Linked DNA regions of Homo sapiens. The protein of the gene in region 5 interacts with the protein of the main gene of each other region in a biochemical or structural test. Each region holds a gene or a part of one and is shown on either strand. Other genes may lie near its edges.

Region 1 (3,500 bases), on a different chromosome or scaffold from region 5:
ACTCCATTACGGGTGACAAAAGGAAACTCAAAAAAACAAGAAAAAGAAAAGAAATAACCATCCTAAATGTGTATGTACCTAATAACAAAGCTTCAAAATACATGAAGCAACAACTGATAGAAATTGGGGGTGGGGGGAAGCAGACAAATCCACATTGTAGTTGGAAACTTCAACTCTCTTCTCTCATAATTAATATAAAAAGTATACAGAATATCATTGACATTTGTAGAACATTGACATTTGTAGAACACCGTACCCAGTAAGAGTAGAAAAAAATGCCCTTTTCAAGTGCATGCAACATTCACCAACATACATAAACCTCAAGTCAGACTGATTAAGGAAAAAAATTAAGAAAATATACAATACTAGTACCAGATATGAAAAAGGACACTAGAAGGTTAATAAGGGTGTATCAAGAATAACTTCACACCAGTACATTTGAAAATTTAGAAGTGATGGACAAATTCCTTAAAAAACACTAACAAAATTCACAAAGAAAATAAGAGATCACTTGAATAGCCCTATATCTATTAACTGTGAAATCACAGTTAAACTCTTCCTACTAAGAAAACTCCAGGCCCAGATAGCTTTACTAGTGAATTCCACCAATTTAAGGAGGAATAATACCAATTCTACACAAAGTTAAAGAAAAAGATATTTCTATTAAAAAAAGAGAAACATTTCTCATCTTTATGAATACAGAATAACCTAATATTAAAACTAGACAGATATCCCAAAAAGACAACTGCAGTCCAATATCCCTCATGAATATAGACAATATCAGCAAATCAAGCAATATATAAAATATATCATGACCAAACTGGCTTTACACAAGGAAGTTCAGTTTAACACTTGAAAATTAACATAATTTACCACATTGAGAGATTTTAAAAGAAAATTTAATAGATTCAGAAAAAGCTCTCTACAAAGTTCAATACCCACTCACGATAATAACTAGAAATAGAAGAAAAATTCCTCAAACTAATAAAGGGTATTTGTGAAAAACCTACATCTAACATAATACATTGGGAACAAGGCAAGTATATCCACTAACATTTCTATTCAAAAACATACTGGAGCCAGTGCAATTAAAAAAAGTAAAAGAAACAAAGCCATACAGACTGGGGAACAAAGTAAAACTGTCTTTCTTCATCCACAAATGACCAACCATATACAACATCCCAAGCAATCTATTAAAAAGCTAATAGAATAAGTGAGTTTAGGACGGTTGCAGGATACAAGGTCAATATGAAAAATCTGTCACTAGAAATGGACAACAGAATATTTTCTCATGTTATTTTCTAGAAATTTAATTGTAGCTATTTTTTATATAATAGGAGTTAAGGGTCAAGGCTTATTTTTTGCACGTGGATATCTAGGTGTTTGTTGAAAAGATTTTCCTTTGTCCATTGAGTTGCCTTGGAAAATATCTTTCCCTCACAAGAGCAATGTATGGATGAGAGGGAGAAAGGTAAAGCAGTTCCTTAATGGGTCAAGCTAAGTTGATTCTTGGGCAGGGAGAGCCTCCAAACCTGTTAGATTGTCAATAAAATTAGTCCAGAGATGATCAAACCGTGGCCTATAAAATAAGTCTTATTTGTTAAGATTAACATCATAAAGGGGAGTTACATTAAAGTTTCTAAGTGACCGATAATAAAGGATCAAACTAAATAATACTAGGACATTTCTAAGAGAAACAACAATAGTAAAAAAAAAAATCTTACATCTGCTATCTTACCAGATTTCTTTTTTTCTGATAATTTGCTTGGTGTCTTGAAATTACTGATCCCTTCCATTGTGAAAGCCACTCTCAGTCCTACGATGAAAACAAATTGCAAGTTACACAGCAGATATAAAGAATACAACTCTCATTCATGAAGAAAAATGCCAATAGCCAGGCGCAGTGGATCATGCCTGTAATCCCAGCACTTTGGGAGGCTGAGGTGGGTGGATCACCTGAGGTCGGTGGATCACCTGAGGTCGGGAGTTCGAGACCAGCCCGACCAATATGGAGAAACCCCGTCTCTACTAAAAATACAAAATCAGCCAGGCGTGGTGGCGCATGCGTGTAATCCCAGCTGCTTGGGAGGCTGAGGCAGGAGAATCGCTTGAACCTGGGAGGCAGAGGTTGCGGTGAGCCGAGATCGTGCCATTGCACTCCAGCCTGGGCAACAAGAGCAAAACTCCGTCTCAAAAAAAAAAAAAAGCCTATAACATTATCGTTCACGTTATCACAAACAAAATTTGAGAGCTAAAAAGGACCTCAACAAACATTTAGCCCAATTTTACTTAAAATGAGGAAACTAAAACCAAAAAGTACAATTACTTACCCCCATCATAATATTAGTGATTGGGTATTTTTGTTTTCATTATAAAGTAATATATGCACTTAGCTAAAAAAAAAATCACCTAGTACAAAAAAGTAAACAGTATGTCTCCCTGTTATACTTCCCAGGAGCAGTTGTTAACAGCTCTCTTATATCCTTTAAGGAAACTGTTCAAGCAGCATTATTCATAACAGCCAAAAGGCAGAAACAACAGAACTCTGCATCAGATGATGAATGGATAAACAAAATGTGGCATATCTATACAATGGAATATTATTCAGTCATAAAAAGGAATAAAGTGCTGATATATACAAGAATGAACCTTGAAAACATTATACTAAATGAAAGAAGCCAGACACATAAAGGCTACATATATGATGATCCTTTTTTTTTTTTTTTTTTAGATGGAGTCTCACTCTGTCGCCCAGGCTGGAGTGCAGTGGCATGATCTCGACTCACTGCAACCTCTGCCTCCCAGGTTCAAGCAATTCTCCTGCCTTAGCCTCCTGAGTAGCTGGGACTACCAGCGCCCACCACCACACCTGGCTAATTTTTATATTTTTGGTAGAGACGGTGTTTCACCATATTGGCCAGGCTGGTCACGAACTCCCGACCTTGTGATAATGCCCGCCTGGGCCTCCCAAAGTGCTGGGATTACAGGCATAAGCCACCGTGCCCGTCCAATGATCCCATTTTTAGGAAATGTCCAGAATAGGCAAATCATGGAGACAAAAATAGCTGAATAGTTACTAAGGACTGGGAGACAAAGAATGCAGAATGACTGCCAGTGGGTATGGGATTTCTTTCTGGGGTGAAGAAAAGGTTCTAAAACCAGATAATGGTTTAATATATTCATCTCTGAGTATACTAGAAACTATTGAATTTTACACTTTCAAAAGGTGGATTTTTATGATACATTAATTATCTCAATAAATGGTTATAAAAATTGTCTATGAAAATAAAATGAGGCCGGGTATGGTGGCTCACGCCTGTAATCTCAGCACTTTGGGAGGCCAAGGCAGGCGGATCAGTTGACATCAGGAGTTCAAGACCAGCCTGGCCAACATGGCGAAACCTCGTCTCTACTAAAAATACAAAAAAATTAGCCAGGTGTGGTGGCGTGTACCTGTCATTCCAGCTACTCAGGAGGCTGAGGCAGAAGAATCGCTTGAA
Region 2 (3,500 bases), on a different chromosome or scaffold from region 5:
AAATATTTCATTCATATAATGTCTCCTTTGTAATCAACACTGAGAAATGTCACTTTGATTAAACACAACTCTGAATGACTAAGACCACAGTACAATAAATTCTCCAGAGCTATCTTTCAGAACAACTGATTGCTCTCCAGTCTTAATCCTCCAGAGTCTTATTTAATCAAAATGATGTTGCTAATTAAGGATTAAAACCTCCGAATAGAATAAAAAAGAAGGATTTTTCTTTCTCCTTTGGGCAGGTCAAGGAGGCAGAATTTGCTGCAAGGAAGTAAAGAGTCCCTTCTACCTTTGGTAAGACTGCATTGTTCTCTGACATTAGGACTTAATCCAAAATAGGGCTGAGTGCTTTGTAATATTAATATAATTGGAGAAAGAAAAAAGGGGAGCAAGAGAAAGAAAAAGAAAGAAAGAGAAAAGAGGAACTGCCTCGGATAGCTACATATGCCTATACATACACATATAGACACTATTTACTCTAAAAATGGACAATGTAGCTCACATCTGTTTGACATCCACTGATAGATAACAAAGAATAACAAAGAAGTTTTATACTAAATTCTTAACTACCCTCCCTTAAGATCCATATATTAATTTGTTTTCTTGAATTTGTATTTGGTAATATAAATTGTTTCCTTAAAAAACACAAAAACCGACGAACTCCATAAGAACTCGTTGGGAGAGACAAAGATTCACAGGAAGGCTGTTTGATTTTCATGGAATATAAACTCTTTTAGGTGTTGGGAGCGAACTGGGTGAGAAACAGAGATGCTGGGTGATGCTTTAACAAATTGCAAAATACTTCTTTCATCTTTGCATCTTCTCTCTGCATTGGCCTAGAAATTTATAATCTCTGCCAAATTAGTCTATTACAATACAGACATACTAACAGCTACCATTTTTTGATCACTTACTATGTGCCAAGTTCTTTGCCAGCAATACACATGGTGTTACCTCTAATAAAACCGGAGAAGAGGAGGTATTATCCCCCTTCAGAAATGAATAAACTGAGGTAGAGAATAAATGACTAGGTCAAGGTCAGTCAGCCTGTGTTAAGCAGAGTCCAGACTTCCACCCAGGTCTCTTTGGTTCCAAAGCCACATTCTATTCTGCAGGACAAGGCACTTCAAATCTTTTTACCTGGAGGATAAATGTGTCCGCGTGTGTTGGGAAGGTGCTGGTGAGTTGTACTGGTCTGCATGAGACTTAGAAGCTCCTGTGATTACTGACTGAATCATCATCACAGATTCATCACATCATCACTTAGCCCAATTCATCACAAAGACTGAGCAACTACTACCCAAATGGAATCAGAAAGTAAACAGTGAGAATGGTCATAAGCCTCTTTTCTCTCCTAGCCAGTGCTACTTACCAGTTAAAAAAAGACATCGTTTTTTGTGATCCATACTCCTGAAGGCCAAAAGCACCCAGTGGACAGACGATGGCTCTTACGCCTCCAATGCCAAGGCAAATGGTCAGCAGTGCTACATAAAACAGCCTGTGCTGCTCTGTTTTTGGTATGTTGTTAACTGCATGGTAAGTGCCCAGATAGAAATCTTCCAAGGGAAAAGCCACCACAGATAACAAAGCAGTGCCTGTAGGTGGAGAAAAAAAAAGAGTAAATGTAGCATAGAACAAGTGGATCACCAAATCACATTTTAAACAGGGTTTTTCTCTGACAGTGGCATCATTTTGTGATTGTCTTATCCAAACATTTATGGTAGTCATTGCAATTTCAGGGATAGCCTGATGTTTTCCAATTGTAAAAATTTCCTTCAATATGTGTCTCAACTAATCCGGAGTTTTAGGTTTTTTTTTTTCTCCTCAAGCTTGAACTATGTTTTCTCTCAGAATGTATGAGCAAATCATGTTTATTTTGCCAAAATTAAAATAACTCAGGAAAGCATTGTATAAAAAATGAAGCTGTTAGTATTCCCACCCCCAGAGAAAACCACTGTTAATAAAGGTTATTTGTTCTTAATCAATCGAGTGACAGAAAACACCATGATCTCACACATCTCAGAAGCTTATTACCTAAAAGCTTTTAAGAAGAACATTATCAGAGTTAGAGGAGAACACAGCCTTTTTTTTTTTCTTTCCTACTTCTGTTTCTCCTTGTAATGTCTTTCTTATTTCTCTTATTTCTCACACAGCTGGATGGAGCCTTCTTTGCCACAAACAGAGTTGAGAAAGCTGGGGACAGAGGAGTGTGAGTGGAAGGAGAGGGGACCTAAAGTGACAAAAGAAGGTCGAGTATCCTTCTCTCTTCCACCTTGCAGGGACCACACTTGATGACTTTCCTTGTCTAATAAAAATAACTATACAATTCCATGCTTTTGCTAAGCTCTTTATATTTTGCCAAGCATGCTCATGGACTATATTGTTTCATCTTGGAAAAACTTTGTGATGTGAGTGGATAGATTTTCTTATTCAATTTTTTTTTAAAGAAATAAGTTCAGTGAGATTAAGTGGCTTGCCCAATGTTATAAAGTAACCCAGTTGTAATCTCCCTCTTCTTGGACCTCCTACCATCAAGTAGTCAAATAAATTTTTTTTTTTTTTTGGAAATAGCATTCCCCCCCATCAGATTACAAAAGTAATACATTCTTACTTCAGAAAATTTGAAAAATAGAGGAAAGCACTCAGAATAATACAAAAGGCCCATAATCTCATTACTCAGAGATCATCTTTACATATATAATTTTACTTTTATAAAATAAAATATTTTAAAAATATTTATATTTTACTTAAAAATATTTTACTTATATATAAATATATTTTATAAATGTATTTTACTTAAATAAATTGAGGTTACACTGTTGAGTTTTTAATGTAACCAAATAATATGAACAATTTTTAAAATACCTTTATACTTTTCCAACATGATTTCTAGTGATGATGTGATATTCTAATCATAATGTGTTTTAAAATACCTTTTCAGTTATTTTTAAATGAATACTGTAAAATACCCTGACACATAAGTTTTGTGCACATCTTTATTAGCCTAAGTTCTCAGTCAAAGGCATTCCTATTTTTATTGCTTCTTAATACCACTGGCAAATGTTCTTTAACAATGCAACAAGTTAATCTCCTACCATCATTGTATGAGAAGATCTTCATTCATACTAGTTAGCATCATTAATTTTTTTGTTTTGATGATTCGATTAGTGAAAAATGGCTCCTCCATGTTCGTTTTGCTCTTCATTTTATTAATTTGGCATTAATGTTATTTGGTATAAATTTTTATACAGTTATTTCATGTGATTTGTTTTCTCAATTAGATTATAAATTCCTTACAGATAAAAATTTGGTCTAATGCTTCCATCTCCCCTACAGAGGCTTTCACAATGTAAAGACTATATGCCCTTAATAGCTATTTGGCAACAGATTCATTTACCATGAGGTGAGCCCTTTAAATTATTGAGTTTGAAATGTTCCCTTTTAAGGTTAGCCAGATATGAAACTAACTGCTCTCTTTCTACCACTTAGTCTTCTCT
Region 3 (3,219 bases), on a different chromosome or scaffold from region 5:
AGGCTTGGGAAGGTTTGGCCTCTGTCCTTTGGAGCTGGGGGCATAAGAGGAGCCCCCCACCTGCAGAAAGGTGGGGACAGAGGTCAGTGGAGGGAGTGGAGGGGGTGGAGGGAGGGCTGGGAGAGCAGCAGGGCACAGGGGTTCTTGGTCCCTGCAGGTCCCAAGATCCCACATTCACGCCCCTCAGAGGGCACTGCCAGTCTAGACCCAGCTGCCTCACACCCACCTTGTCCAATCCAAGACTCTGAGCCTCTTCCCCTGCTGGGCATCCCCCTAGAGTGGCCAGGGGAGGAGGGAGGAGCCTGCAGAAGGGAGAGAGTGGACTGTGGGCCTTGGGGAGGACTTTGGCTGCACTGGGACCTCTTACCTGAACACAGTAGCAATGATCCGTTGTGACTGCCCTCATCACAGGGAAGATGGGAACCTGCGTGATCTGCCTCACCTGGGCCTTAGGAGCGGGAGGAGAGATTGATTTGGTGGAACAAGGTTAAAGGCAGGGATGGGAGAGAAGTCCAGTGATTTAATTCTTGCAGCCCACCTGCTGCAGAGTGATCAGTAAACTGGTTGCATAAATCCCAGGACCAGGCAGCTTTTGACTGTAATCTCTTTGGCCAGAAAATGTTTTGGATTCGCCAAAATTTTAAAATCAGGGGATGTCAAACCACAGTCTGGATTTCCCATTTCTCATAAAAGGCAGGTGGTCTGGCTACATGGGCCCTCATCCCTGCAAGGTAGTGACCAGCTGGAGCTGATGAGCAGCCACGCTCTCAGCATGGGGTTGGGAGTCTCCAGTTCGCCACAGGCCCCACCACTCCCCATTGCCTCCCCAGCACAGACACCAAGTTGCCATTTATCTTCCCCTGTGCCCTGGTTGATGAGGTTTCCAGCAGTCGATTTTTTTTTTTTCTTCACACACAGCCCTCTTCTCTCTTTCATGTTTCCTGATTGGCCCCAAGGTATTTGTATTAGTATCAGTGACTCTTTCAATAGAAGCACAGGAAAAAGCTCAGAAGGAAATGACCCAAAATGCTTACGCCAGTTTGCTAGGTGATTACAACAGCTGATTTTTATTTTTCTTCTTGATTCTCTTCTACAGTTTCCAAATTCTCTACAATGAACATGTACTTCTTTTTAATATCAAAAGACAAAAGAATTGGTACGTAAAAAGAACATCCTTCCCATCTTCAAGGTCAAGATTGAACGCTGACTCCTGCAGGAAGTCTTCCAGGATTCCCAGGCAGGAATGATGGCTCCCTGTCCCTGTAGCTCCAGGAGTTCTTGCTTCACGCACGCCTCACATACCAGACTGAATGTTGGCAGGAGGAGTGACCAGGTCGGTCATCTGTGTCCCTACCACCTACAACAGGCCAGCAATCTACCCGTGTGTGTTTGTTGGACAGAATTAACCATGATGGGCGGCCGAGGGCGCCTGGAGCTATTTGGGGGCTTGGAGAGAACCTCTTAGGAGAGTGTCAGGCCCTAGGCCAGTGTCACCAGAGGAGGTCAGTCTCAGTCCTTGGAGTGGTGGGATGGAAACCAGACGGGACTGGCATGGTCCACAGTTCTTGCCACAAGAGGGCTTCAGGAGAGGCTGAGGGCCCCTCTGAGGCGTGTGCTTGGTCAGGGTGAGCAAGGGCAATGCAGCTCATACAAAGGCCCAGATGGACAGAGGGACCTAGCCCAGCCCACGCATCGGTACCGAGCCTGGCTCAGGGGCAGGCCGAGGCTTGTGCAGTAGACAAACATTTACAGCAGACACCAGGCAGCTCCTGGAAACCACTCCCCAAAAAACAGCATTGGAATCGGGGACCCCCAGCTGTGAACGAAGGAGCAAGGAGGCCCTGGGAGAGGAGGAGAACCCCAGGGAAGATGGAGGGAGGACTGGGGGGCTGAGGGAGGGAGGGGGCCTGGGCTCAGAGGTAGGCGAGCTGCTGCTGTGCTCCTGGCAAAGGGCCTCTCCTCCGCCAGGGCTCTGGCCCTGAAGGTCTGCCCTGGGCCCCATTCGCCCTGGGTGCCACCTGAGGTTAAAATGACAGAGGATGCAGAGTGCCCTCAGGGTGACCACGAGAGACAGAGCAACTGGAGCCACATTTCTGTCCCAGGCAGGGGCACAGGATTAAGGATGTGCCAGACCCTCAAGATCCAAGGCCTGGCCCCCAGCAATGAGGGCTGGGCCCAGGGGTTGTAAGGAGAGACCAGGCCTCCAGCTGGGTTGGGACAGATGTGGGGACAGTACCCTAGGCAGCATGGCGGCGCACTTCTGAGTCCCGTGGGAGCTGAGTGAGAGCCGAGTAGTCCCCAAGGCCAATTCAAAAGCCCAGCCCGGGAGTCCGTCCACCATGGCAACGGCCCATCTCTCCATGGTCGTTGGGCTTTCCAAAGTCTGCGGCTGACTGGCCTGGGGCTGGGCCGGGCTCGGGGGCCACAGGCAGTGTGCGACGAGGCCGAATCTCTGCTTCATCACATGGGCAGGTGGGCTGGAGGCCTAGATGCGGCTGGACGAGGTGCTGCCCGAGCTGATGGGGAGCCTGGCGCTGTCTGAGTTGCTCTTCAGAGGGGAGGGGCCACCCCGGGCCTGCAGCCGCATGGACCAGTACCAGATGAAGATGAGGAAGCCTGCGGGCAGTGAGGGCACGGGGTCAGCAGGTGGGGGAGCCCCACCCCATCCCTCCTCCTCCCTCCCCAGCCATTGTGACTCGGGTCTGCCCCACCTCTCCATAGTGTTTGCCAAGCACGTGCTGTCGGGCACCCATGAGACCCAGCGAGCACCTCCTATGAGCCGGGCACTGTGCTGCGTCCCCGTGTGGCCTCTCACTGTCACAAACTTCCTAGGCCCATCCTATTCATTACTATTCTCTTTTGTAAACAAGGAAACTGAGGCCCAGGAGGCTCAGGTAAAGGGACGTGGCTGAGCCAGGGCTCAAACTGTGGTGAACAGGCTCTGAAGTCCACCCACTTAAGCACTGTGAGATTTTGCACCCCTCAAATTAATAGCACTATGATGTATCCACAGCTTAGTAAATGTCTGTGTGAATGTATGGGCCTCACTTACAATCCTGAGTCCCCTCATCTCACAGGCAGGAATGAAGGCTTGAATGTTAAATAACCGAAATGTGGTAACATCTCCCCACCACCAACTCCCAGCTCCCATTCTAGGGTGACCCTGTATGGGAGGCTGGCCTTGAACCCCATGAGAGCCCCTGGGCCTGGCCATACAAC
Region 4 (3,500 bases), on a different chromosome or scaffold from region 5:
ATGACCCAGAGTACTAGCCTCCCTTTCCCTAGGGAACCTGTCCCTTAGAAAAGGTTCAGCTGTCTACCAGGTAGGGAGAGACACAGTAGAGGTGAGTGTGGATAGGTCAACTTACAGTGTAACCACAGGGGAGAGAGGGAAACCTGGGTTGGAATGCTGGCATTTGCTCCCCTGCCCTTCCTTGAGTGTGGTATCATCACTGAAGAGTTCCGCGTGGGCAGGGCAGAACTGCTGCCCTGCTTCTGGGTCATTCTCTGAGTCCCAGTGTTTACTATTGATGTTTCTGACTCAAGCCCTTCTAGCTTTGCCCTTTCAGGGGCAGGCATACCTCAAAACCGTAGACTGGTGTGAAGGTGTGGGTTGCCCCTCCACACCTGTGGGTGTTTCTCGTAAGGTGGAACGAGACTTGGAAAAGAAAAAGACACAGAGACAAACTATAGAGAAAGAAATAAGGAGACCCGGGGAACCAGCGTTCAGCACATGGAGGATCCCGCCAGCCTCTGAGTTCCCTTAGTATTTATTGATCATTCGTGGGTGTTTCTCTGAGAGGGGGATGTGTCAGGGTCACAAGACAATTGTGGGGAGAGGGTCAGTAGACAAACACGTGAACAAAGGTCTTTGCATCATAGACAAGGTAAAGAATCAAGTGCTGTGCTTTTAGATATGCATACACATAAACATCTCAATGCTTTACAAAGCAATATTGCTGCCCGCATGTCCCACCTCCAGCCTTAAGGCGGTTTTTCCCTATCTCAGTAGATGGAACGTACAATGTCTTGGTTTTATACCGAGACATTCCATTGCCCAGGGACGGGCAGGAGACAGATGCCTTTCTCTTGTCTCAACTGCAAGAGGCATGCCTTCCTCTTATACTAATCCTCCTCAGCACAGACCCTTTACAGGTGTTGGGCTGGGGGACAGTCAGGTCTTTCCCTTCCCACGAGGCCATATTTCAGACTATCACATGGGGAGAAACCTTGGACAATACCTGGCTTTCCTAGGCAGAGGTCCCTGCGGCCTTCCGCAGTGTTTTTGTCCCTGGGTACTTGAGATTAGGGAGTGGTGATGACTCTTAAGGAGCATGCTGCCTTCAAGCATTTGTTTAACAAAGCACATCTTGCACAACCCTTAATCCATTTAACCCTGAGTTTGACACAGCACATGTTTCAGAGAGCAAGGGGTTGGGGGTAAGGCCATAGATTAACAGCATCCCAAGGCAGAAGAATTTTTCTTAGTACAGAACAAAATGGAGTCTCCTATGTCTACTTCTTTCTACACAGACACAGTAACAATCTGATCTCTCTTGCTTTTCCCCACACTGGTGAGTCACTCCTCCTTTCCTCTCCCTCTACTCCCAGGAGTGAATTGTTCCCTCCAAACTAGAAACTGGTGACTGGCACTTCCTAGTTCTACCTGGAACTAGGAAACGAGTGGCAGTGGAATTTCAGTGTCCTTTAGTCTTTGCCTTCTGGCTCCAGATCACTTTTTTTTTTTTTGAGACGGAGTCTCATTCTGTTACCCAGGCTGGAATGCAGTAGCATGATCTTGGCTCACTGCAACCTCCACCTCCCGGCTTCAAGCGATTCTCCTGCCTTAGCCTCCCCAGCAGCTGGGACTACAGGCACGCGCCACCACGCCCGGCTAATTTTTTGTATTATTTATTTATTTATTTGTTTTTGAGACAGAGTCTCTCTCTGTCGCCAGGCTGGAGTACAGTGGCACGATCTCGGCTCACTGCAAACTCCACCTCCCGGGTTCATGCCATTCTCCTGCCTCAGCCTCCTGAGTAGCTGGGACTACAGGCGCCCGCCACCATGCCTGGCTAATTTTTTCTATTTTTAGTTGAGACGAGGTTTCACTGTGTTAGCCAGGATGGTCTTGATCTCCTGACCTCATGATCTGCCCGCCACGGCCTCCAAAAGTGCTGGGATTACAGGCGTGAGCCACCGCGCCCGGCCCCTAATTTTTTGTATTTTTAGTAGAGACGGGTTTTCACCATGTTGGCCAGGCTGGTCTCGAACTCCTGACTTCAAGTAATCCTCTTGCCTAGGCTTTCCAAAGTGCTGGGATTACAGGCGTGAACCCCTGCACCTGGCCACTCCAGACCACTTTTACCTCACCATGTTGCTCTTCAGTTCCTTTGTGATCATGTCTTGTGGAGTCTCCAGCCCAGTTCCGATTCAAGATAGAGCTACTGTGATTTTTTTTAAAAAAATTTAATTAGAATAGGTTAATTGACATGGTTTTATAATTAAAATGATATCAAAGGGGTGGGGTATCTCATTCCCATGTTGCTCCTGTTCACCCCAAACCCCAATAGTTTCTAATGTCTCTTCAGTGTTTCATTTTACAGATACAAGTATATATAAATAATACTTGTTTTTTCTCCCCTTTCTGACACAAAAAGAGGCATACTACATATATTCTACATCTTGCTTATATATATATATCATGGAGTTTTGTTGTTGTTGTTGTTGTTTTTGAAACAGGGTCTCACTCTGTTGCCCAGGCTGGAGTACAATGGCATGATCATAGCTCACTGCAGCCTTTTTTTTTTTTTTTGAGACAAAGTCTTGCTGTGTTGCCCAGGGAGGAGTCCAGTGGCGTGATCTTGTCTCACTGCAGACTCTGCCTCCCAGGTTCAAGTGATTCTCCTGCCTCAGCCTCCCGAGTAGCTGGGACACAAGCGTGCACCACCATTCTTGGCTAATTTTTGTGTGTGTGTATATATATATATATATATATTTTTTTTTTTGAGATGGAGTCTGGCTCTGTCACCCAGGCTGGAGTGCACTGGAGCAATCTCGGCTCACTGCAAGCTCCGCCTCGCGGGTTCACGCCATTCTCCTGCCTCAGCCTCCCGAGTAGCTGGGACTACAGGGGCCCGCCACCACTCCGGCTGATTTTTTGTATTTTTTTTAGTAGAGACGGGGTTTCACCGTGTTAGCCAGGATGGTCTCGATCTGCTGACCTCGTGATCTGCCTGCCTCGGCCTCCCAAAATGCTGGGATTACAGGCATGAGCCACTGTGCCCAGCCTTTTGTACATATTTTTTTAATTTAATTTTTTTTTTTTGAGATGGAGTCTTGCTCTGTTACCCAGGCTGGAGTGCAGTGGCGTGATCTCGGCTCACTGCAAGCTCTGCCTCCCGGGTTCACGCCATTCTCCTGCCTCAGCCTCCCAAGTAGCTGGGACTACAGGCACCCGCCACCATTCCCTGCTAATTTTTTTTTTTTTTTGTATTTTTAGTAGAGATGGGATTTCACCATGTTAGCCAGGATGGTCTTGATCTCCTGGCCTTGTGATCTGCCCCCATTGGCCTCCCAAAGTGCTGGGATTACAGGTGTGAGCTGCCCGGCTAATTTTTGTATTTTTAGTAGAGATAGGGTTTCACCATGTTGGCCAAGCTGGTCTTGAATTCCTGACTTCAAGTGATCCGCCTGCCTTGGCCTCCCAAAGTGCTGGGATTACAGGCATGAGCCACCGTGCCTGGCCTCACT
Region 5 (3,500 bases):
CCAGGCTGCGCATCACTTTCACCTGGGGGTGGGGGAAGCCAAGGAAAGCTGGTGGTTAACTTCTCACTGTCTTCCTTACCTCTTCCCTCCAAGGAATCAGCTTGACAAGTGTTACCACCTGTATCTCCTACCTCCTATCTTGTGATATGACAGGGCACTAAGATCAGGATGAGGGAAGACCACCACCATATAGATGGAGATGGCTTCATAGGCCTTACCCTTGGAACTGCATTGGGAGAACTGGGGTGGGAGTGGCCAAGTGGCTTGGAGGGCAATACCCAGACCACAGGTGTCCCCAACTTAAGTTACTCCATGAAGTAACTTGGGAGGGGTAGTGAAAACTGTAAATGCCCAAGGAGTGTGAGTGCTCAGGGAGCTCCCCTCCAGGCTCCCTTAGCAGGGCGTTCAGGTGAGGATTATAACATTGAGTTGTACTAAATTGGAGTGTTTTCATGTCCATCATCCTCATAACCTGAGAGCTCTTCTGAACCCTGTATCTTTTGTTACTGCATCCCTTGTACCCTGTTTGTGTTGCTTTTAGTAAGTGTTCATTGAACAAATAATTACGCTGTAATTTAGAGGGAGTGGGATATTCCTCTAGGGCTCTTTTCTGCTTAGTCTTTAAGACAGTAATTCCAAACTGTATTTTCTCTTGAAGCCATTATTTGTAAGGTCTTCTCTCTTCCAATGGTGACACCAACCTCCCGGGCCCCCTCCATCTTCTTACCTCAGTCAGAAAAGTTTTCTGGGTCTCCTCATCACATCGAATTAACTCTTTCATGACCATCACTTTGCCCGTGGCTTTGTGTGTCACCTACAGGGAGGGTGACTGTTAATGGTGCTGAGACCAGAGGAAGTTCTGGAGAACTGTTTGAGAAAATCTATGCAGCTGGCCATCCCATCCCTTGGAGGGCACACTGAGCCGGGTCAGAATGACAGAGTTCATGTGTGGAAGATGCAGCGTGGAGCAACATGGGACTCACACGGAAGCAAACCCTCTTTCCTGGAGAGCTGGGCATGCACAGAGGACAGGCAAGAACCCAGAAAAGGGAAGTGGGGAAGAAGGCAGGAGGGGATGCTGCCAAGCCAAGCAGGGGCTCTGGTCATTTGGCATAGAAGTGAGTCTCCTGAGTGAACAGAAGTCTGGGGGCAGGAAGGTCAGTGCCAAAGACATGCACCAGGGAGCTGGGTGGATCGGGGGTGAGCTCTCCAGCCCTGCTGCCCCCAAGCTGAGACACACGTCTTACCTGACCCCCCCTCCCAGTTCTCAGCAGAAGAGGAGGAGGAGGAGAGAAAGAGAGAGGTTAGTCCCTGAGACTGTTCACCAGGGAGGCAGGAGCCATTCCCCTGTGTGCTCCTTGTAGCATGCCCGGTACTGAGGTCTGCAGGCACCTAACAAACACCCACTGACTGGAGGCAGGAGGGCCACAGGCACAGCTCAACCCAACCTGGATCTCCAGGTCCACAAGCTCACTGTAACAGCAACATTGACCTTAGGTGGCCTGGGTGGGGGTGAAGGATACCTCTCACACCAACACCCAAAGCCAGGAAGGAGGCCTGGCATCCTGCATGGTGTGGGGTGGGGCCAAGTGATGAGAAATCCCCGAAAGACAGTGACAGAGGGACTGGGGGCAGAAGAGCAAAGCAATTGTTGCCTGCGCTCACCTTGATAGCCTGCCCAAAGAAGCCCTTCCCCAGGACCTCCCCATGGATTAGGTCACAGGGCCGGAAGATCTGCTGTGAATAGCTGCTGGAACAACGAAGGGATTCTGAGCGGCTGATGTCACGGCTGAACAGCAGGGGCTCCTTTGGGGAGCTGGGGCCAGGGGACTTGGAGATACTGTTACTGCGCCTGAAGATGAGGAAAGACGGGAGTAGGGATGTGTAGTCCTCAGAGACCGGCCAAGAAACCCTGGAGGGAGGAAACTTAGGGGCACCTGTTCATTCCAATGTCTATAGTTTAGATGTTATTATTGGGGAACAGGGGCTCTTACATCAGATGTATCATTTTGGGGTTGCTGACATCAGTCATTTATTTAAGCATAGTAAAAACACATTCAAAATGGGAACTCTGCATACATCACACATAGAACAATTAACTAGATTCTACTAGCTGATAATGCTCAGTATGTGACATATATGACAACACTGTAGATGGTAATTCACCATCTCCCATATCTGCTTGATTTAAGTACTAACTGGTTTAGAGTGATAGTTATACTAGTATCCAAAAAATGAGCAAATGGGATTTTTTTTTTTTGAGACAGAGTCTCGCTCTGTCAACCAGGCTGGAGTGCAGTGGTGTGATCTTGGCTCACTGCAACCTCTGTCTCCCTAGTTCACCTGAGTCTCATGCCTCCGCCTCCTGAGTAACTGGGACTACAGGCATGTGCCACCAGGCCCGGCTAGTTATTGTTATTATTATTATTTTTGAGACAGAGTCTCGCTCTGTCGCCCAGGCTGAAGTGCAATGGCACGATCTCGGCTCACTGCGACCTCCGCCTTCCAGGTTCAAGCGATTCTCCTGCCTCAGCCTCCCAAGTAGCTGGGAGTATAGGTGCACGCCACCACGCCCGGCTAATTTTTTTTTTTTTTTTTTTTTTTTTGATGGAGTCTCACTCTGTCGCCCAGGCTGGAGTGCAACGGCGGGATCTCCACTCACTGCAACCTCTGCCTCCCAGGTTCAAGAGATTCTCCTGCCTCAGCCTCCCAAGTAGCTGGGATTACAGGCGTGTGCCACCACAACCGAATAATTTTTGTATTTTTTTAGTAGAGATGGGGTTTCACCATGTTGGCTAGGTTGGTCTCGAACTCCTGATCTCGCGATCCATCTGTCTCGGCCTCCCTAAGTGCTGGGATTACAGGCGTGAGCCACCACACCCGGCCCTAATTTTTGTATTTTTAGTAGAGATGGGGTTTCACCATATTGGCCAGGCTAGTCTCAAACTCCTGACCTTGTGATTCGCCCACCTCGGCCTCCCAAAGTGCTGGGATTATAGGCGTGAGCCACTGCGCCCAGCCTAATTATTGTATTTTTAGTAGAGATAGGGTTTCACCATGTTGGCCAGGCTGGTCTCAAACTCCTGACCTCAAGTGATTTGCCCGCCTCGGCCTCCCAATGTGCTGGGATTACAGGCGTGAGCCACCGTGCCTGGCCAGCAAATGGGATTTTGGATGATATTTTGCACATCTTTGTACCTGTCCATGTTTCCTGAATTTTAAGATGATAAACACGTATGATTTTTACAGCAATAAAGTCACTATGTTTACATTTTCAAAAGCGGTCGATAATAGTCATGGTCAATGACTGTTATTTTCACTTACTGAAGAAGGAACAAGAAGGTTGAAGTCCACAGCACTGCAGGTGAACAGCCCTGCGAACTTTCTCTCTGGGGTATGCTCCTGCTTTACTTGGGCTACCCAGAGAGGACTGACGCTGGATGGCTCTTGGCTTGTCCCGACCTACAGGTTTACTTACCCTTGTCCTTTTGCTCTGCCTC
Region 6 (3,500 bases), on a different chromosome or scaffold from region 5:
TATTTCTGGACACAGTTTAAATTTCGTATGATTTCCATGCGCTACAAGGTCGTTCCAACTATTTTAAATTGTAAAAACCATTGTTAGGCCAGGCACAGTGGCTCATGCCTGTAATCCCAGCACTTGTGGGAGGCACATCACCTGAGGTCAGGAGTTTGAGACCAGTCTGGCCAACATGGTGAAACCCCATCTCTACTAAAAATACAAAATTAGCTGGGTGTGGTGGTGGGCGCCTGTAATCCCAGCTACTCAGGAGGCTGAGGCATAAGATTCCCATGAACCCAGGAGGTGGAGGTTGCACTGAGCTGAGATCACACCACTGCACTCCAGCCTGGCACAGAGCGAGACTCTGTCTCAAAAAAAAAAAAAAAATCATTGTTACATTACAGGTTGTACTGATTTTTGAAAAAAGTGCAAAAGCAATTCAATGGAAGATTAATCTTTTCAACAAAAGGTGCTAGAGCAACTGGATATCCTTAGGCAAGAAGAAAAAAAATGGCGACCTAAACCTCACACCTGTACAAAATTAACTCAAATGGATGACAGATTAAAATACAAAAGTTAAAATTATAAAACTTTTAGAAGAAAACAAAGGAGAAAATCTTTGGGATCTAGGACTTGGTATGTTAGATATGATGCCAAAAACATGATCCATTAAAGAAAAAAAAAAACTTAGTAAATTGGATATCAACAAAATTTAAAATTTTTGCTCTGTGAAGTATCCCACTGAGAAGGTAGAAAGGACCAGGCACAGTGGCTCCTGTCTGTAATCCCAACACTTTGGTAGGCCAAGGCGGGAGGATCACTTAAGCCCAGGAGTTTGAGACCAGCCTGGACAACACAGAGAGACCCTGCCTCTATCAAAAAAAAAAAAAAAAAAAAAAACATTAGCCAGGTGTGGTGGTGCACACGTGTGGTCTCAGCTACTCAGGAGGTTGAGGTGGGAGGATCACTTGAGCCCCAGAGGTTGAGGCTAGAGTGAGCCATGATCACATCACTGTGCTGCAGCCTGGGTAACTGAGTGAGACCCTCCCCAAAAAAACAAAAACAAACAGGCTGGGCGTGGTGGCTCATGCCTGTAATCCCAGCACTTTGGGAGACCAAGGCGGGCGGATCACCTGAGGTCAGGAGTTCAAGACCAGCCTGACCAATATGGCGAAACCCCGTCTCTACTGAAAAACACAAAAATTAGCCGGGCATGGTGGCAGATGCCTGTAATCACAGCTACTCGGGAGGCTGACATAGGAGAATCGCCTGAACCCAAGAGGTGGAGGTTGCAGTGAGCCAGGATCGTGCTACTACACTCCAGCCTGGGTGACAAAGTGAGAATCCATCTCAAAAAAAAAAAAAAACAACCAAAATAAAAACAAGCAAACAAACAAAAAGGATGGAAAGACAAGCAACAGATTGGGAGAAAATATGTGCAAACCATACAAAGAAGCTGCACCTGTGATCTACAAAAAATTATCAAAACCCAGTAATAAAAAATATACAATTCAAGGGCCGGGCGCAGTGGCTCACGCCTGAAATCCCAGCACTTTGGGAGGCTGAGGCGGGTGGATCACCTGAGGTCAGGAGTTCGAGAACAGCCTGGCCAACACAGTGAAACCCCGTCTCTACTAAAAATATAAAAAAGTAGCTGGGTGTGGTGGCAGGCACCTGTAATCCCAGCGATTCGGGAGGCTGAGGCAGGAGAATCGCTTGAACCCGGGAGGCAGAGGTTGCAGTGAGCCGAGATTGCACCATTGCTCTCCAGCCTGGGCAACAAGAGTGAAATTCTGTCTCAAAAAAAAAAATTATATATATATATATATGTATATGTATACACACACACACACACACACACACACAAAATTCAATTAGAAAATAGGCAAAAGGTATAAAGAGACATTTTACTGACCAGGATATATAGACAGCAAATGATGATATGAAAAGATGTGTATTATCACTAGCCATTTGGGAAATGCAAATTAAGATCATGATGATGTATCACCACACGTCTATTAAAATTGCTAAAATAAAAATAGTGACAATACCAGATACTGGCAAGAATGTGGAGAAAATGGATTTCTCTTACACCGCTGACAGGAATGTAAAATGGTACCGACACTCCAGAAAATACTTTGGCAGTATCTTAAAAAACAAACAAACAAAATAAATATATATAGTCATCCTTGGTATCCATGGAGGATTGGTTCCAGAGCCTCCCAGGGCAACAAAATCCAAGATGATCAAGTCCTTCATATAAAATGGCATAATAATTGCTTATAACCTATGCACATCCTCCCCTATATTTTAAATCATCTCCAGATTATTTATACCTAATACAATGTACATGCTATATAAATAATTGTTATACTGTATTGTTTAGGGAACAGTGACAAGAAAAAAAAAGTCTGCACAAGTCCAGTACAGACAATGTTTTTTTGAAAATATTTTCAATCCCAGGTTGGCTGAATCCATTGATGTGGAACCCATGGATACAGAGGGCTAATTGTATTTACCATACGACCAAAGAAATGAAAAGTTACATGCACACAAAAACCTGAACACCAATTTTCATAGAAGCTCTATCTATAATAGCCAAAAACTAGAAATAATCAAAATGTCCTTTCTTATACGGGAATGATTCAATAGGTGAACCATGGTACATCCATACCATGGAACACTATTCGGCAATGAAAAAGAGGGATGGATCTCAGGGACATCACACTGAGTGAAAAAGGGCAATCTCCAAAGATCACATACTGTATGATTCAACTTATATAATAGTCTCAAAATGACAAAACAGGTTAGTGGCTGCCAGAGGACAGGGACAGTAGAGAGACAGAGGGAGTGCCTAAGGCTGTAAAGGGTTTGTGGTGGTGGAACAGTTCTGTATCTTGATTGTAGTGGTGGTTACACTAATCTACATATGATAAAATAGCATATAACTACATATACATTGTACCAATGTCAATTTCCTGGTGTTGATATTATACAATAGTTATGTAAGATGTAGCCACTGAGGGAAACTGGTAAAAGGTAAGGACTTGACTATGTTTGCAATTTCCTGTGAATCATTAATTATCTAAAAAAAAAAAACAGTTAAAATAGTTTCCAAAAATCTGAGGATAAGCGAAGGAAGGACATAGCTTTGTAAGTAACAAGAATCTGCCCACTCTCCTTATTAATCTTAGAGTTGTTTTAGGGACCATGCATAATAAAATAATAAAGGCCGGTTTTAAGTAAGTGCCTACAATGAGCCAGGCACTGCTGTAAGTACTTTCACACAATGCCCTATTTAATCCACACAAGTTCCTTATAAATGAAATACCACAACCCCATTTTATAGACAGGAAAAGTGCAGTTGAGAGAGGGTAAAGCAATTTGTTCAGGCTCACACAGTAAGTGTTAGAGCCATGATTTAAACTCAGATTAATACCAGAGGCATGCCTCCTGCATACCACTGTAACAATAAAGATGTTCAGAGGACAAAAAAGATATCAGTCAAACTATGT
Region 7 (3,500 bases), on a different chromosome or scaffold from region 5:
TGTGTGTGTGTGTGTGTGTGTGTGTGTGTGTGTGTCCAAGTCTCCCTCTCTGTCTCTCTCCGACACGTAGGTACAACACGTGGGTACATTATGTGTGTGCTTGATCCCTGGGTTGCTGGAGGAGGTTGGGGGGAGGGGAGACGGGAGAGGGGAAGAGGAGGGAGGGAGGGCCACCCCCAGCCCGGCCCCTGGCTGGCTCAACTCCATCGGTCCGTCTGGGAGGGGGCCGGGGGGTCTTGCAGGAGCAGAGTCTGACCCGTGCAGGTTGGGGAAAGGGAATGGAGGGAAGGGGAGGAACGGGGTAGAGGGACAAGGGAGAGGGTAGGGGGCAGGGGAGGGCAGTACCTCAGTGATGCCAAAGGGGATGTTGCCCACGTAGAGGCGCCGGGCTTGTCTGGTCATCTGGCTCCCGACCACGGGCACCGGCGTTGGGGTCACAGCCAGACCGTCAGGGGTCATGGTGGGGAGAAGAGCAGTGGCTGGAATCTGACCCGCAGCTTCAAAGGGAATAAAAGCCGGATAAAACCCCATCAGGGGAATGCTCAGTGACCACCCCTCACCACACACTGGGAGTTCCCCTCCTCAGCAGAAAGCTCCTACAGGCTCTCGGTCTTAGCACCTTCCAGAACCCTCTTTCCACCCTCGGGGCCCCCACCCAGTAACTGCTGCTCCTCAGAAGCCTCACTTCCTAATGGCGTCCAGATGGAGGCCTCATTCCCCTGTCAACCACGGGTGTCTCTGGTCATTTCCTCCTCTAGGGAGGCTTCAAAAGCGCAGAGACCAGAACCCCCAGGGGTGTGCAACCCTCTACCTGTGTCTTTGACCCCCTCCAAGCACACACGCAGGGGAATGACTGACGGAGAATCCCAACCCCTGTACCCTCCCGCTCTGGGAGCAGCCTGGCCAGGGGCCTACCTTGCATGGCCTTGTACTGCATTGGGGTGATGTGCTCAAAGCCTGGGGGTGGCACGTCCCAGTATTTACGGACCTTCTTCTTCTTCTCGTGGCGGGGGGAACGACTGGGGGAGGTGGGAGGGGAGAGCGGGGCAGGGCAACCTCAGTCTGACCAACAGTGGGCCTGCGAGCCCCCTCCCAGGCACCCTTTCACCCTCCCCGCAACCATGTAAGCTCCACTCTCTCCAGGGAAGGAGAGGGTCTGGGGCAGGGCCTGGGAAAGGGGTGCTGGTTTCAAGGTAAGTGGACTCTTCCCAGTGCTTGGGCCAGGGCTGGAAATGGGCGGGACAGGGTGCACGGGCGTGAGGAAGGTGAAGGGAGTGGACATCAGGGAGGAAGGGGCAGGAAGAGAAGCTCACATCAGTCCACCGTGCTCCTCTTTAGCGCCTCTGGTCAAAGGTTTGCTGGGGGGTGGGAGGGAAAGGTATGGGGAGGGGTGACTGGGGACCCTCGTCTTCCCCACATGCCACACCCCCCCAAGGGCACTGAGCCCCAGGGTGGGAGCAGGGCCGAGGTCAACAAGCAGCAAGCAGGCCACCCTCGGCCCTGCCATTTCCCCCCAAACACTCCCACCCCCAGGAAAGAGGAAGTGAGGAAAGGAGAAAGGGGCCAGGGGCCAGGAAGGACCAGTCTCTAGCTGGAGAAACTGAGCCGGGAGGAGGCAGGAGGACTTCCGCCTATCCTGCCCTTCCTCACCTAAGGAGGCAGAGAACAGAAAGGGGAGCCTAGAAGGGAAGAGGCGGTGGAAACCGACACCCCTGGGCCAAAAAGTCAGCCCAGGCTGTGGATACTGCCTCGGTCCCAAGAGCTCCCTTCTCCTGGGAGGCAGGGAAGAAAGAAACTGGAGGCAGAGACCAACCCCCTCGAAGAGAGTCCCACAGAGAGCCACAGAGAGTCGAAAAGAAGGAACAGGCCCTCAGAGTCAGAGACAGAGAACAACCCCTTGTGAAGGAAAACACAGAATCAATTCCCAGGCTCCAGATAAAGAGCCTATTGCCCCCAGCAACCCACCAGCAACCACCAAGACAGAAAATGAAAGAAACCCCAGAAACGGGGGAAAAAATCGGAATCCAAGACAGACCAAGCAGTAGATCCCTCCCCCAGATCCACACAAAGAACGAACGAGCCACACAGGGCCCGGACCCAGACACAGACACACACAGGCCACCCACAGGCCGGCCAACACCGACCCCCCGACTCCCAGGCTGGCCCAGGGGATCCCTGAGCCCTAGTACCTGCGTCGTCGCCTGTCCCGGGAGGCGCTCCGCTGGTCCCGGTTGCGCCGGTCGCGGCTCCGGCTCCGGCGTTTGCGGTCCCGGCTCCGAGAGCGGCTGTGGCTGCGCTTCCGATGCCGGTTCTCCTTGTCCCGCTCTGGGCAAGGGTGAGAGGAGGGGCACGGGATAAGCGGAGTAAGGATGCGGGCCCAGCCCACCCTGCGCGCTGGTGGCTATGTCCCAAGCCCCAGGGAGGCCACCCCCAAAGGGAAGGGATTCAATGGAGGAAGGGAATTAACAGGCCTCCTGGGTCCACAAGCGAGTCCAGGGACCATGAGGGGACCAGGGGGACGGGGCCTGGAAATGCCCCCGGGGTGTAAGATACCTGAGGATGCTCAGGAGGAGCTGGGGAGCCAGAGAAGACAGAGGAGGCTGGCTCCTGGTCCCCCTCGAGGGCTGAGGGGCCTGACCCCAGGGTCGTCCCTGAGAGGGGCAGGGCTAGAGGCTGGGGAATCAAGAGACCCAATGATGTTTTCCTGAAGGGACCCAGCGACCCCTCAGGAAAGACCTCTGCAACTAGCTGGCACCCACAGCCCCACCATCAGGACTAGGGGTCAGGTGCCAGGCAGGATCTGATATCCCCAGGAAGCAGGGAAACTCAACCCATCCCTTCCCAAGCCGGTGAATAATGCAGAAGCAAGCACCCTTCCCAGGGGAAGAGAAGGGCCTCGGAGAATCTGCAGACTGAAGGGGAAAGAGGCCCTCCTCTCCTTCAGCAGGTCAGGGGAGGAGCTTGCCCCATCCAGACTTGAATCCCAAACCACTTGAATCTCTCAGCCTCACTCCCTTCAAAGCCAAGTACTGAAGAGACTGTAAAGGCGTGAGTAGGGGCGGGTATCTCTGCCAGCCTCCAGCAGGCTCCCTCAACCCTCTATTTGCCTGAGGTAGCCACTAGGAACGGAGCCTCACTGGCAAAACCACAGAAACCTCTGCTCTCACCAGACCCTTCAACCCCTGAAGAGAGACCGGCCCTTCAAGATGGAGGATAAACCATGAGCATGGGGGGGCGGGGGGGTTCATGAGCACCGCCACACCATTTCCTTAATTCAAAGACACCCAGATTTCTCAGCTAGCCATGAAGCACACACACAAAACAGATGCACACGTTAAGGTGCTTATATATGTTAACACGCATCTCCTGGAGTGATCATCCCTGGGGACAAGAGGAGGAAAGGGCACTGAGGGAGGATGTTAAACTTCAGCCTCACCCACAGTGTTTTGTCTCACGTTTTTGCGATGCAATGTGAATGTCTGGAAAAGCATCACAATTCC

The links.
Region 1: the proteins of LIMK2 (region 5) and PBK interact in a test that uses a peptide from one of them, tested with the Homo sapiens proteins (one large-scale study listed by IntAct).
Region 2: the proteins of LIMK2 (region 5) and SLC15A5 interact in a test that uses a peptide from one of them, tested with the Homo sapiens proteins (one large-scale study listed by IntAct).
Region 3: the proteins of LIMK2 (region 5) and ADGRG1 interact in a test that uses a peptide from one of them, tested with the Homo sapiens proteins (one large-scale study listed by IntAct).
Region 4: the proteins of LIMK2 (region 5) and F11R interact in a test that uses a peptide from one of them, tested with the Homo sapiens proteins (one large-scale study listed by IntAct).
Region 6: the proteins of LIMK2 (region 5) and RSBN1 interact in a test that uses a peptide from one of them, tested with the Homo sapiens proteins (one large-scale study listed by IntAct).
Region 7: the proteins of LIMK2 (region 5) and U2AF2 interact in a test that uses a peptide from one of them, tested with the Homo sapiens proteins (one large-scale study listed by IntAct).

The regions. Positions count from the first base shown.
Region 1 is NC_000008.11:27,831,318-27,834,817, forward strand, and holds part of PBK (lymphokine-activated killer T-cell-originated protein kinase), read right to left. Parts: intron 1,817-3,500; 5' UTR 1,797-1,816; coding exon 1,739-1,796; intron 1-1,738. UniProt on the Homo sapiens protein: Phosphorylates MAP kinase p38. Seems to be active only in mitosis. May also play a role in the activation of lymphoid cells.
Region 2 is NC_000012.12:16,271,186-16,274,685, forward strand, and holds part of SLC15A5 (solute carrier family 15 member 5), read right to left. Parts: exon of another isoform or gene 3,340-3,500; intron 2,252-3,339; exon of another isoform or gene 2,157-2,251; intron 1,599-2,156; coding exon 1,376-1,598; exon of another isoform or gene 1,362-1,375; intron 298-1,361; exon of another isoform or gene 1-297. UniProt on the Homo sapiens protein: Proton oligopeptide cotransporter.
Region 3 is NC_000016.10:57,662,849-57,666,067, reverse strand, and holds the end of ADGRG1 (adhesion G-protein coupled receptor G1 isoform b precursor), read right to left. Parts: intron 2,617-3,219; coding exon 2,486-2,616; 3' UTR 501-2,485; downstream 1-500. UniProt on the Homo sapiens protein: Adhesion G-protein coupled receptor (aGPCR) for steroid hormone 17alpha-hydroxypregnenolone (17-OH), which is involved in cell adhesion and cell-cell interactions.
Region 4 is NC_000001.11:161,014,653-161,018,152, reverse strand, and holds part of F11R (junctional adhesion molecule A isoform 1 precursor), read left to right. Parts: intron 1-3,500. UniProt on the Homo sapiens protein: Seems to play a role in epithelial tight junction formation. Appears early in primordial forms of cell junctions and recruits PARD3.
Region 5 is NC_000022.11:31,264,298-31,267,797, reverse strand, and holds part of LIMK2 (LIM domain kinase 2), read right to left. Parts: intron 1,853-3,500; coding exon 1,666-1,852; intron 815-1,665; coding exon 728-814; intron 23-727; coding exon 1-22. UniProt on the Homo sapiens protein: Serine/threonine-protein kinase that plays an essential role in the regulation of actin filament dynamics. Acts downstream of several Rho family GTPase signal transduction pathways.
Region 6 is NC_000001.11:113,805,977-113,809,476, forward strand, and holds part of RSBN1 (lysine-specific demethylase 9), read right to left. Parts: intron 1-3,500. UniProt on the Homo sapiens protein: Histone demethylase that specifically demethylates dimethylated 'Lys-20' of histone H4 (H4K20me2), thereby modulating chromosome architecture.
Region 7 is NC_000019.10:55,658,035-55,661,534, reverse strand, and holds part of U2AF2 (splicing factor U2AF 65 kDa subunit), read right to left. Parts: intron 2,674-3,500; exon of another isoform or gene 2,554-2,673; intron 2,326-2,553; coding exon 2,190-2,325; intron 1,359-2,189; coding exon 1,314-1,358; intron 1,020-1,313; coding exon 916-1,019; intron 498-915; coding exon 346-497; intron 1-345. UniProt on the Homo sapiens protein: Plays a role in pre-mRNA splicing and 3'-end processing. By recruiting PRPF19 and the PRP19C/Prp19 complex/NTC/Nineteen complex to the RNA polymerase II C-terminal domain (CTD), and thereby pre-mRNA, may couple transcription to splicing.